2 separate regions of the Homo sapiens genome follow, and region 2 is linked to region 1. The links come from fine-mapping of genetic effects on gene expression. Tissue or cell type: whole blood. Region 1 holds a variant in brackets; the other region holds the start of a gene. All regions are shown on one strand. Distances are from middle to middle.

Region 1 (2,856 bases):
CGTACTTGCAAAAACACATAGCTCTCATTTCTCTAATTATGTATTCAAAAAGAAAGTTTTGATTTTTCTGGTCAAGGGCTTCTTGCAAAATCAAACTACGTTTGCCAAATATAGCCCCGGTGACCACAAGCCATCAGCAGGCCTGGGTCTGAGTTCACACCTGCTCAACATTCCTGCATTGCCAGTGGTGATCCAGCTGAGATACAATTCTGAGTCAATTTTGTCATTGGATAATGGCACTACTGATTTTTCCTAGGCTTTTTATTCTGTTTTAGAAATTCTGCTTCAGACATACCAAAGGTAATGAAATAGACATATCTCATATTTCTGTCCTTGTTTCATATTACAGTCCACCCTCCATATCTGTGGGCTCCCATCCATGGATTCAACCAACCTTAGGATATAAATATTTGAAAATAAATTGTGTCTGTACTGAACATGTACAGACATTTTCCCCTTGTCATTATTCTCTAAACAATACAGTTTATTTATATAGCACTTACATTGTATTAGGTGTCATAAGTAATCTAGAGATGTTTTAAAGTGTATGGGATGACGTGTGTAGGCTATGTGTAAAAGACTATGCCATTTTATATCAGGGGACTTGAGCACCCAAGGATTTTGGTATCCACCGGAGGTCCTGGTACCAATACCCTGCAGATACCAAGGGATAAGTGTGTTTCATGTTGCTGTGTATGGTGGCAGAGTTGGTATGGACTTAGGCTTTAAGATCAAGAGGACCTGAGTTTAAATGCTGTTTTCCCCTGAGTAGCTGTGTGACCTTGGACAAATTATGAATGAGTCGGTTATCTCAAATGTAACTACAGAGAAATAGCAGTACCTCCCTCTGTTTATTGCGTGTCCATGACAATGCGCAGAGAACACCCCCATCCTAGTAGGTGAGCAATAAATGATAGCTATTATTTTTCCCATTTGAGCTGCTTGGTTAAAATTATGAGTGTCATAGAAAATATGGGTGTATGAAAATAATTGATGAATTGAGTAACATTTTAAGTTCAAGAGGTAAACCTATTGCTTTCCATTACTCTTTCCTCTAGTAATGGGTGAATAACAATAAAACAGAAGGCCAGACCTGTCAACGTGATTTTCCATTAATGAGATATAGTTAAGAGTCCATGGTACTTCGTGTGCTACTTGGAAATAGGCAGTACTGGTCACAACCTTATCCTTTTAAATCATGCTATTTAGACAGCTCCTCTGAGAGCTGTCACATAGTTCCACATTTATGTGCAAATTGGGGGAAATCCTGTTAGTCCATGCTTTGTCGTAAGTTAAAGCCTTGGTCAGGTCTTAAATGAATGACATGGGTGAATTAAGTTTCAAACTTTGTTAGCTGGCCATGGGAGGCATCTTGACTTATTTCTTCTTTATTTCAGCCATTCTACTAATAAAAGCAAGACTTTTATGGCAGTTACTCTGTGCCATGCTCTCTTTTACTGTTTTGCAAGTCTTAACTCATTTAATTGCT[C/G]AACAACCCTTTGATATAGATAGTGTGATAATGCCATTCTGAAAAGGAAAAAACTGCGGCACAGGTTAAGTAATTTGTCCATGTCACACAAATAGTAAATGGCAGAGCCAGGATTTGAAGAAAACACTGCGGCTGCAGAGTCATTGCCCATAATCTTGACTGCCTGTGTGCACAATGGCCTCCCAAAAACCCAGACAAAAATTCAGCATTTCTATTTACCTCCATGATTTTTGTTTAGAGAAGCGAGGCTTCATTATGCCAGAAAGAGCATGGCTTTGGGGTCTGAAACTGTGAGCATAAGGTTAAGCTTTACGAATACCTGTTTGCCTAGTTGGGAGAGGCAAAGTTTGGAACTTCCCTAAACCTCAGTGTCCGCACTTATAGAATGAGGATCTTATATGCCTGTTGTGAGGTGACTAGTATTTCTGACACATAGAAGATGTCCAATAAATATGTCACTACCTTGAATATATATATACACATATACATATATATGTGTGTGTGTGTGTATGTATATATATATATATATATATTTTTTTTTTTTTTTTTTTTTTTTTTGAGATGGAGTCTTGCTCTGTTGCCTAGGCTGGAGTACAGTGGTGCAATCTTGGCTCATTGCAACTGCCACCTCCTCTTTTCAAGCGATTCTCCTACCTCAGCCTCCCGAGTAGCTGGGATTACAGGGGCCCCACCACCACGCCCGGCTAATTTTTTTGTATTTTAGTAGAGACGGGTTTCACCCTGTTGGCCAGGCTGGTCTCGAACTCCTGTCCTCAAGTGACCTACCCACCTCAGCCTCCCAAAGTGCTGGGATTATAGGCATGAGTCACCGCGTCTGGCCTACTATGTTGAATATTAACAGTTGTCCCTCAGTATCCACAGGGGACTGGTTCCAGGACCTCCCCCGACCCCATGATACTAAAATCTGTGGATGTTCAAGTCCCATGTAAATAAAGCATAGCATTTGCTTATAACCTATGCACATCCTCCCGTATATTTGAAATCATCTCTAGATTACTTATAATACCTAATATGACATAAACACTATATAAACACTGAATTTTTAAATTTGTATTGTTATTTATTTATTTCGTTTCACATATTTTTGATCCACGATTGGTTGAATCTGTGGATGTAGAACCTGTGGATACAGAGGGCCAACTGTATTTAAAGATATCCAAATATGCAATCATTTTGGTGGTTTATTTTCTCCTGAAAAACAAATTTTTGATTTTGTTAAACTTTTCACCTTTCCAAAATAGGGTAAAATTTGATCACTGAGTTAACAATAATAGAGTATCTTCTATGTGCAAGGCATTTTCTAGATAGGGGCTATCCAACAGAACTTTTTGCAGTGAAAGAAATAT
Region 2 (2,665 bases), 59 kb after region 1:
TTTTGAACATCTTTATATCCTAGCACATTGTAGGTGCTTTAAAAATAACTCTTAAATATTGACTGAGTAAAAGCGTCTATCTCTAAGATGGTCAATCCAATCCCCCTAAGCACTGTTGTGGAGATGAGTGAAGACTAACTAGGAGTCTTGCTCTGTCGCCCAGGCTGGAGTGCAGTGCCATGATCACGGCTCACTACAACCTCTGCCTCCCAGGTTCAAGCGATTCTCCTGCCTCAGCCTCCCGAGTAGCTGAGACTACAGGTGCGTGCCACCACGCCTGTCTAATTTTTGTAGTTTTAGTGGAGACGGGGTTTCACCATGTTGGCCAGGCTAGTCTTGAACTCCTGACCTTGTGATCCGCCCACCTCGGCCTCCCAAAGTGTTGGGATTACAGGCGTGAGCCAACAGAGCTTTTAAAAACAAATACACGTGAGAGGCCGGGTGCATGGTGGCTCACGCCTGTAATTCCAGCACTTTGGGAAGCTGAAGCAGCAGGATCCCTTGAAGCCAGGAGTTCAAGACCAGTTTGGACAACATAATGAGATCCCATCTCTATGAAAAAAATTTTAAAAAATTAGCCAGATGTGGTGGTGATTGCCTGTAGTCCCAGCCACTTGGAGACTGAGGAGAGAGAAGCTGTTGAGTCCAGGAGTCTGAGGCTGCAGTGAGCTAGGATGGTGACAATGCACTCCAGCCTGGGCAACACAGTGAGCCCCTGTTTGGAAAATAATAATAATAATTAATAACATATGTGAAAGAGAGTTCACAATTAGTCCAATATCTTTAGAAAGATTCAAAAACACCTAAATGCGAAAAATGCCTTTATTCATTTGTCAGCTGGATTACAGAAAGTAGGAAGAAAAGAGCCTGTGCCTCTGTAGGAAAGTAACAACGACTTAACTTCTGGAAATGACTTCGCAGCTTAGAGCCCAGCAGTGCCTATTTTGGATTAAACTGTGTATTAATTAAGCTCAAACGATTTCAACATTCATCACCTTGCATTGCACTTCACAGAAAGCAAAACCAAAACAATCCTGGAGTTTTGAGTGAGGAAAACAGACGCCCCGCACTCGCACACGCGCGCACTCGCAGCCTGTCTGAAGTGCAGAGGTTCAGGCGGCCAAGGGACCCGCGCCGGTTTCCGCGGGCGACCTGCAAATCCTGCCCGGGGCCCGGCAGGCGCTGCGTCCCGGCGCGTTGGCAGTTGGCGACCCCCCTCGAATCCCCCCTCTGCTGCGGGCTCCCCGTGGCCTTTGGAGGCTCGGTGAGTCGGCTCCAAATGTTTTCCATATTTGTTCAGCCTCCATAATTCGAATACCAGGGCAGGCCGAGCCAGCCGTGCGCCGCGCTCCAGGGCCCAGGGCGCCGCACACGCACCCACCCACCCACCCAGCCTCGCAGCGCCATGGGCAAGAACAAGCAGCCACGCGGCCAGCAGAGGCAGGGGGGCCCGCCGGCCGCGGACGCCGCTGGGCCCGACGACATGGAGCCGAAGAAGGGCACGGGGGCCCCCAAGGAGTGCGGGGAGGAGGAGCCCCGGACCTGCTGCGGCTGCCGGTTCCCGCTGCTGCTCGCCCTGCTGCAGCTGGCCCTGGGCATCGCCGTGACCGTGGTGGGCTTCCTCATGGCGAGCATCAGCTCCTCCCTGCTAGTCAGGGACACTCCATTTTGGGCTGGGATCATTGTAAGCATCAAGTCTGTTTTGCCTAAGCGCGTTTGCCAAACAGGAATGCGAAGTCGCATGGTCGAGTTGAGACTAACCCAGCTGCATGTGCCCTTCCCCGGGTTCACTCTTCTAACTCGCGCTCTGCTCGGTGACTGATGCGTGGGGCACTGGGTTTTCCCGGGCGGGGCAGGGCTGGACGCGATAGGGCTCCTGCCCCTCTCCTGCTCGCGGCTCCCAGCGCCTCCACGGGGCCTGACTCTGACGCTCTGGAGCTGGGGAGTTCATTTCAAAAGCTGCTTATTTTGGTCAGACTGAACAGCCTCAATAACAACAGCGGATTCATTCGGGCTTTTTCCTTATCCTGTTACCCAGACCCCACCCCTGTCCTTAAACAAGTGGCAAAAAGTGAATTAAGTTCATCTAGTGAAAGCAGGAGAGGAGAAAGCCTGTACTTGGAGTTGCCACATTGAGTAGCATTCATTTTATGTTTTAAACTGAGGCTCCATTAGTAAGTTTCCTGAAATGATGGGCTAAGGCAGGAAATGCGAATACAGCAAGCACAGCCTTAATCCACTGGAGTCTAAAGTGGGATAAACCCAGGGCGCTGGCCATGGCAGAAGTATATTTGGGACTCCACCGATGGATGTACTGTTCTAAGTTGAACAGTACTCAGCTGTTGTGAGTGTTGAAACATGTAGCATACTTGGCTTGATTAAATGAATTCTTTAATGTAAAACGGGTGCCACTTACTGAATACCTACTGTGTGCTCGCCCTGCTAGAGGCCTGACACATATTATTTCTAATCCCCACATCGTCCTGATGGGATCGTTTTAATCATTCTCACTTCTCAAATGAGGGAACCCAGGCCAGACTCACCCAGGGTCATGAGTGGGTAAAGCATTCAGCCATGCTGATTCCTCTTTATGCTAGACTATATCTGCGTTTTCCTCATTGAACCACACTGCCACCACATTTGGTTTGTAACTTTAATATTATGT

What was found. PIP is the estimated chance that this variant, and not a neighbour inherited with it, causes the effect.
Region 2: SSPN starts here. The variant in region 1 is fine-mapped to the expression of SSPN in whole blood (INTERVAL, PIP 0.96).

Annotation. Positions count from the first base shown.
Region 1 is chr12:26,135,636-26,138,491 of GRCh38, forward strand. It overlaps a transcript of SSPN not described here. Among named protein-coding and RNA genes, the nearest start is that of BHLHE41, 12 kb to the left of the region's middle. The variant C/G (reference allele first, on the strand shown) is at 1,490.
Region 2 is chr12:26,194,268-26,196,932 of GRCh38, forward strand. It overlaps SSPN (sarcospan), which reads left to right and starts at 1,306. Exons shown (of 3, transcript NM_005086.5): 1 at 1,306-1,684. The coding sequence starts at 1,406.